3 separate regions of the Homo sapiens genome follow, and regions 1 and 2 are each linked to region 3. Evidence: fine-mapped expression QTL. A gene starts in region 3. Each other region holds a variant in brackets. All regions are shown on one strand. Distances are from middle to middle. Region 1 overlaps LAMC3 (laminin subunit gamma 3). Region 2 overlaps LAMC3 (laminin subunit gamma 3). Region 3 holds the start of LAMC3 (laminin subunit gamma 3).

Region 1 (2,500 bases), 35 kb before region 3:
GGGCTGCAGGTTAAAGGTCCCCGGGCGACATCTGAAATGGAGGCAGGACATGCCCACGAGGGCCACGTGAATCAGCCAGGAAGGGGCGGGGCCAGGGTATCCCAGCTGGACCAATGAGAGTCTAGAATCACTGCAGAAACTTAAAAACAATTTTTTTTCAGAATTCTAGAAGAGTAGTAAGAACATTACAGATTGTTCCCATACCTGCTTCAGACAGCCTCCCCTGATGCTGACATCTGACATTACCACAGTACATTTGTCAAAACTAAGTTAACTAAACTCCAGACTTTATTAGGTTTTGTTTTTTTGTTGTTGTTGTTTTTTTTTTTTTTTGAGACAGAGTCTTGTTCTGTGGCCCAGGCTGGAGTGCAATGGTGCAATCTTGGCTCACTGCAGCCTCCGCCTCCCGGGTTCAAGTGATTCTCCTGCCTCAGCCTCCCGGGTAGCTGGGATTGCAGGCGCCTGCCACCACACCCGGCTAATTTTTGTATTTTTAGTAGAAACGGGATTTCACCATGTTGGCAGGTTGACCTCGAACTCCTGACCTCAGGGGATCCGCCCGCCTCAGCCTCCCAAAGTACTGGGATTTCAGGCTTGAGCCACCGCGCCCAGCGACTTTAATAGGATTTCTCCACTTTTTCCTCTAATGTCTGGTTTCTGCTGCAGGATCCCATCCAGGACACGGTGTTGCATTTAGTGGTATCCTTGTTCTCCTCCAACCTATCACCGCTTCTCAGTCTTTCCTTGTCTGCCACTATCTTGACACTTTTTGAAAAGCACTGATCAGGTATTTTTAGAATGTCTGATGTTTCTCATGATTAGACCAGAGTTATAGGCTTGGGAAAGAAATACACAGAGGTGAAGTACCCTTCTCGTCATATCACATGGGGGCACAGGAAACCCACATGACATCCAAGCGATGCTGACTTTCATCACCTGTGCTGTCTACCAGTCTCTCCACTGTGCAATCACCACGGTCCAGTCATTAGAAGCAAGTCACTGAATAGGCCGGACGCGGTGGCTCAAGCACTTTAAATTTTTTTTTGAGACGAAGTCTCGCTCTGTTGCCCAAGCTGGAGTGCAGTGGCACGATTTCAGCTCACTGTAACCTCTGTCTCCCGGGTTCAAACAATTGTCCTGCCTCAGCCTCCCAAGTAGCTGGGACTACAGGTGTGCGCCACCATGCCCGGCTAATTTTTGTATTTTTAGTAGAGACAGGGTTTCACTATGTTGGCCAGGCTGGTCTTGAACTCCTGACCTCGTGATCCATCCACCTCGGCCTCCCAAAGTGCTGGGATTACAGGCATGAGCCACCGCGCCTGGCCGGCTCAC[G/A]CACTTTGGGAGGCCGAGGTGGGTGGATCACCTGAGGTCAGTTCGAGATCAGCCTGACCAACATGGTGAAACCCCATCTCTACTAAAAATACAAAAATTAGCCAGGCGTGGTGGTGGGTGCCTATAATCCTAGCTACTTAGGAGGCTGAGGCAGGAGAATCGCTTGAACCCGGGAGACAGAGGTTGCAGTGAGCCGAGATCATACCACTTCACTCCAGCCTGAGCAAAAGAGCGAAACTCCGTCTCAAAAAAAAAAAAAAAAGCAGCAAGTCACTAAATGCAGCCCAGTCTCAAAAAGAGGGGGATTAAGCTCGACCTCCTAGAGGAAGAGTATCAAAGAACCCACGGACAGATGTTAAAGCCACCCCAGTAATTAATAGATATTTTGAGGTTATGCAAATATCCTCTCTTTCCTTAAAGTTCTGCCCACCAATGTCAGCATTCATCGGCAGCTCTTGCCTGTAGCAATTACCACTGTGAGGTCTGAACAGTGGTTTTCCAGTTCCTTCATTTCTACATTCATTACTTGGAATTCTTCTGCAAGGAAGGTTTGTCTCTTCATGCCCATCTATTTATGTATTCAATCATCTATTTACATCAGTATGGATTCGTGGATTTGACTTTATTCTCTGGGTTATAATCCAATACTATCGTTTATTTTGTTGCTCAAATTGTTTCAGCCCTGAGAGCTCTTTCACGTCGGCTCCTGTGTCCTTTTGACATGGGCCCACGTTCTGGTTTGGGCTGTTTTGTTTGTGTCTGTCTCTGTTTTTCAGCATTTCCTTGCTTCCTGGCACTGTAAGACGCCTTGGGCTTATCTTGTCTTTTTCCAGCCCCAGCCCCAGAATCTGCCACTTCTCCAAGCAGCTCTGGTGAATGTCAGACACAAAGCCAGGAAGAAGAGATAGTGTGTACCCAAGGAGCTAAACCCATGTTTGTCTGCTGGCCGCACTGCTGGAGCTTGGAGGCCTCTTGAACACTTGAAAGAGGAAGTTTATGTACTTCCTGGCCTTGGGAGAGCCCCTTTGACTTGCAGAGCTTCAGATGCCCCATTTGTACCATGATCAGACTGCAAAGATGGCAAACAGGCTCAAAATCCAGCTCAGTGGGTAGGGGCTTCCTGAAGCAGGGTGTTAAGAAGGATCCTGAGGTTATAGTAGGGCTCATG
Region 2 (2,500 bases), 31 kb before region 3:
CTTTACTGTTCCCATCTTGCCAAGGAAGTGACCCATCCATCACTGGTACAGTGGTCCATCTTCCCACCCACCACACATCCATCCAGGATCCTTCCATCTGTCATCCACGCACTCACTCATCATCCATGAATCTTTTTTTTTGGGACAGAGTCACACTTTGCCACCCAGGCTGGAGCGCAGTGTCATGATCTTGGCTCACTGCAACCTCTGCCTCCTGGGTTCAAGTGATTCTCCTGTCTCAGCCTCCTGAGTAGTTAGGACTACAGGCATGCATCACCATGTCCAGCTAATTTTTGTATTTTTAGTAGAGACAGGGTTTCACCATGTTGGCTAGACTGGTCTTTAACTCGTGACCTCAGGTGATCCACCTGCCTTGGCCTCCCAAAGTGCCAGGATTACATACATGAGCCACCGTGCTCGGCCTCCATGAATCTTTCTGTCTATCCCCTCACTCCTCCATCCACTTATTCATCCTTCCTTCTTTCTGTCCAGCAGCCACCTATCCACCCATTCATTCACCCATCCATGCATCTTTCCATCCCTCCCTCCATCCATCCACTCATCTAATAAGACATGGTTCCTCCCTGGTGAATCCCAGTCTGGTGTAGACAGACAGATCACGCAGACCCTGTACCGCGATACGTGTTGTGGGAGATGTACGAGAGGCTGTGCCTGCACTGTGGGGCCTCTGACTCAGCCTGGGTGTGCAGGCGAGGGGCAGGTGGGAGGGAAGGTGTCCCGAGAGCGGGGCTGCTCAGCTGAGACCTGAAGAATGAGCAGGAGGCTGTGAGCCACAGGCTGGGGAGAGGGGGCAGGGGTGGGAGGTGTGGCACCTGCAAAGGTCCAGAGGACAGAGGGACCCCAGGGAAGCAGCCAGGCCCCATCTCATGGTCAGTTTTATGCCCAGAACCACCAAATATTTTACAAGGAATCAGAGCTCTCCTAGATATCCCCAATGTGTTTCTGCTGCCTCTCAAATATACAAAGATGCCCGTTATCAACCAAAGCAAGTTCACTTAAAAGTGCTTCTGGGCCAGGCGCGGTGACTCACGTCTGTAATCAGCACTTTGGGAAGCCGAGGAGGGTGGATTACTTGAGCCCAGGAGCTTGAGACCAGCTTGGGCAACATGGCAAAACCCCATCTCTACCAAAAAATACAAAAATTAGCCGGGTGTGGTGGTGCACATTTGTAATCTCAGCTACTCAGGAGGCTGAGATGAGAGGATCACTTGAGTCTGGGAGGCGGAGGTTG[T/C]AGTGAGTAGAGATCGCGCCACTGCACTTCAGCCTGGGTGACAGAGGAGGACTCCATCTTAAAAAAAAAAATAGAGATAGTGGGCATGGTGGTGCATGCTTGTAATCCCAGCTACTCAGAAGGCTGAGGCAGAGAATTGCTGGAACCGGGGAGGTGGAGGTTGCAGTGAGCCAAGATGGCACCACTGCATTCCAGCCTGGTTGACAAAACAAGAATCTGTCTCAAAAAAAAAAAAAAAAAGCTTCTAAATTTATCATAGGTTTTTGTTTTGTTTTGTTTTTGTTTTTTGGCCATTGTATACTTTCTCAATCAAGTGATGGCAAATGTGTTGGGGTAAGGTCCAGACCCCAGGAGCCCCTGTCCCTCTCTCCCCTCAGCTGTCCCACTAGGTACCAAACTCGGTGCACCCAGATGACACTCAGCCTCTCCCACCCCGCTCCCCACACTGCGTGCCCTGCTATCCAGAGGCCCAGAGAACCCCGAAGGTCAGCCTCCACCTCTTCTTCCTCTTCCACCCCCTGGTCACCATGTCCTATTAGCTCCTCCTTGCACTGGGCTCTGGAATCTGCCCTGCTCTCCCTCTCCACAGTCAAACCCCCATGCAGGCTGCCCAGGCGTTCCTGCTGTAGCCTCCACGCAGCCTCCCCCTCACCCACTCCTGCTTCTCACTGATCCACGGCTCCTCCAGAGGCCTCCCGTGCCCCCCACCCCACCTCAAACACCTGTCCTTCCCCTCTCCCTGCACTTATGCAGCACCTCCTACAGGAAGCCTGCCCTCCACCTGCAAGATCCGCTGAGCTTCCACAGGGCTCAGCCTGGTCTCATTAAGGTCTGTTTTTGTCTCTTGGCCTCTCCAGGAGCTGAGTGTCTCTAGTCTTCACCAGGATTAGGGCGAGGTAGCTGCAGACAGGAAGGGATGGGGAGGGGAGGGACTGCTGACAGCCTGTTCCTCCTGCTTCTTGTCATTCAGTGCAATGTGTCCATACTGGGCCGCCCCTCGCCCTCACCTGCAGCCTCCCTCACTGAGCGAGTGGAACCCGGGCAGACAGCGGTCACACTTCCAGCCAGTCACCGTGGGCTTGCAGGCGCAGGTGCCTGTGTCATCGCACTGGAGGTGTAGGGAGCCTGGGAGAGGAAGGGCACAGGGCAATTGAGGCCAGGAAAGGGAGAGGGTCGGAGGCTGGGGATGTGGAGTCCACTCACCTGCCGACTGGCAGTCACAGGGCTGGCATGGCATCCGCGGGTCCC
Region 3 (2,831 bases):
GGGGCACCCCTCAGTCTATCCTTCTGGCTATCTAGGGGTACAGGTCCTGTTTTTTTTTCTTCTTTTTTTCATTCTTTCTTTTTATTAAGAGATAAGGTCTCACTCTGTAGCCCAGGCTGTAGCACAGTGGCACTATCATATTTCATGCAGCCTCAACCTCTCAGTCTTAAGTGATCCTCCTGCCTCAGCCTCTTGAGTAGCTGGGACCATAGGTGTGCACCACCACGCCCAGCTTTTTTTTTTTTTTTTTTTTTTTTTTGAGACGGAGTTAGCTCTGTTGCCCAGGCTGGAGAACGGTGGTGCGACCTCGGCTCACGGCAACCTCCACCTCCCGGGTTCAAGCGATTCTCCTGCCCCAGCCTCCTGAGTAGCTGGAACTACAGGCACCTACCACCACGCCCGGCCAAATTTTCTATTTTTAGTAGAGACGGGTTTTCACCATGTTGGCCAGGCTGGTCTCGAACTCCTGACCTCAGGTGATCCGCCCGCCTCGGCCTCCCAAAGTGCTGGGATTACAGACGTCAGCCACCGCGCCCGGCCTATTTTTCTTTATTTTTTGTAAAGATGGGATCTCACTACGTTGCCCAGGCTGATCTTGAACTCCTGGGCTCAAGCGACCCTCCCATCTCGGCCTCCCAAAGTGCTGGGATTTCAGGAGTGAGCCACCGCACCCAGCCTAATTCCTATTTCTGAGCCCCTCCATCCAACACCATATCTGGGTCCTGCAGCCCAACCTGGGCGCACAGCAGCTCAGGCCTCAGCCTCAGACCCCCAGTGGAGTGGGGACACGGGGTGCGGTGGCGGTGCCCCCAGCCCGCGCTTACCTAGGCGGAGGGTGATGTTGACCGAGGTGGGGTACTGCACGCCGAAGGCCATGGACGGGCTCTGCCACCAGGTGCTCTCGTCCTGGCTGTGGAAGTCGGTGAGGTAGGAGGCGTTGTGGTGGCGCTGGGGGTCGGCGGCGTCGCAGCGCTGGCAATGAGCCCCCGCGCCCGCGGCGCCCACGTGGGGACAGAAGTCCTCGGGCGGGCTGCCGCACGTGTGCGAGGCCTGGGCGAGCCGCCCAAACGCCGCGTTCTCGAACACCGGCAGGCAGCGCTGCGGGCGCCCTGCGCCGTCATAGCACGCGCCCATGCCCGCGCCGGCCGCCCGCGGTGCCAGCAGCGCCAGCCCCAGCAGAAGCGCAGCCGCCGCCATGGTCAAGGGCACCGACGCCGCGCGCTCTGCCGGCCCCGCTCGGCTAGGGTGGGCGCGGACCGCGCGCTGGCCGCCAGGACCCGCCTTCCCCTGCGGGGCGGGGAGGCTGGAGGGAGGGGCGGGCGGCGGCGGCCCCACCCCACTAAAAATACCAGGGACCGCGCCGTCCCCGGGCGCCCACTCCCACCTGCTGGACGTGCCCGGCAGTGCGCGGCTCGGGAGTCTGCCCCAGAGGCGACCCGGGCCTCTTTGAGCCTCAGTTTCCTCGTCTGTGGAGTGGGGTCGGTAAAGATGCAGGCTCATTCTCGCCATTGGGAGGCTTCAATGGCTGCTCATTAAACAGAAACTGTTCAGCAGTGCCTTGGAGTCCTGAGATAAAAGGGGACAAGAGGATCTATCTCTAACTGATCGCTACCGTTTGCGCATCTCCTCCTAGCAATAAAGTGTGCCCTGGACAGGGTTGTGAGATGGCTCCGCATAGCTCCTGTCGCCCTTAACCCTGAAAAGCACTCCTGCTGCCGGCTGCGCTCTGTCCCCACAGCAAAGAGATTCTAACCTGACATTTGTGACAAGGGTACCTGGTCTTATCACAAATGTCACCTCAGAGAGGGCTTCCTTGTCTTCTGCCCCAACCCCCATAAATGCCCCCTTTACTCCCCATTTATTAACATTAGCAAATCGAGGGAGAGAAGTCATTCGATAAAATTTAGCAGCCAGGTCGTGCGCGGTGGCTCACGCCTGTAATCCTAGCACTTTGGGAGGTGGAGGCGGAAGGATAACTTGAGGCCAGGAGTTCGAGACCAACCTGGGCAAAATAGTGAGACCCTATCTCTACAAAAAAATACAAAAATTAGCCCGGCGTCATGGCACAAGCCTGTAGTCCCAGCTACCTGGGAGGCTGAGGTGGAAGGATCCCTTGAGCCCGGGAGGTTAGGCTGCAGTGGGCTGTGATCATGCCATTGCACTCCAGCCTGGCCAACAGAGTCAGACCCTGTCTCGAAAAAAAAAAAAAAAAAAAGGCAGCCATTCCCAGACGAACTCTAAGGAAAATAGAAATAAATTTCCTGGCCTGGCGCGGTGGCTCTCGCCTATAATCCCAGCATTTTGGGAAGTTGAGGAAGGCAGATCACCTGAGGTCAGGAGTTCGAGACCAGCCTGGCCAACATAGTGAAACCCCGTCTCTACTAAAAACACAAAAATTAGCTGGGTGTGGCGGTGCGTGCCTGTAATCCCAGCTACTCAGGAGGCTGAGGCAGGAGAATTGTTTGAACCCGGGGGGCAGAAGTTGCAGTGAACTGAGATCATGCCATTGCACTCCAGCCTGGGCAACAAGAGAGAAACTCCATCAAAAAAAAAAAAAAGAAAGAAAAGAAAGAAAGAAAATTTTTGGAAGCAAGATGAACTGTAGTGGGCTGATTCACTACCAGTTATTTACACATGATTAAAACAATACGGTTGTGGAAAGGACTACAGAATAGACCCATGGAATAAGTTAGAGATTTCAGAACTATATCTAAGTAGAGTTAGTATATGATATCACCACTGGTACCTAAGGTTATTTTGGAAGTTCTAGCTAATACAATAAGACAAAAAACTTAAAAGATATAAATATTTATATCTTCTACTTACCTGAA

Evidence for each region. PIP is the estimated chance that this variant, and not a neighbour inherited with it, causes the effect.
Region 1: its variant is fine-mapped to the expression of LAMC3 in whole blood (TOPMed, PIP above 0.99).
Region 2: its variant is fine-mapped to the expression of LAMC3 in whole blood (TOPMed, PIP above 0.99). The same link has a PIP of 0.9 or more in blood mononuclear cells.

Annotation. Positions count from the first base shown.
Region 1 is chr9:131,043,055-131,045,554 of GRCh38, reverse strand. LAMC3 (laminin subunit gamma 3) reads right to left here. Exons shown (of 28, transcript NM_006059.4): 8 at 1-31. Among named protein-coding and RNA genes, the nearest start is that of LAMC3, 35 kb to the right of the region's middle. The variant G/A (reference allele first, on the strand shown) is at 1,333.
Region 2 is chr9:131,039,008-131,041,507 of GRCh38, reverse strand. LAMC3 (laminin subunit gamma 3) reads right to left here. Exons shown (of 28, transcript NM_006059.4): 5 at 2,456-2,500; 6 at 2,260-2,377. Among named protein-coding and RNA genes, the nearest start is that of LAMC3, 31 kb to the right of the region's middle. The variant T/C (reference allele first, on the strand shown) is at 1,253.
Region 3 is chr9:131,007,581-131,010,411 of GRCh38, reverse strand. It overlaps LAMC3 (laminin subunit gamma 3), which reads right to left and starts at 1,238. Exons shown (of 28, transcript NM_006059.4): 1 at 825-1,238. The coding sequence starts at 1,197.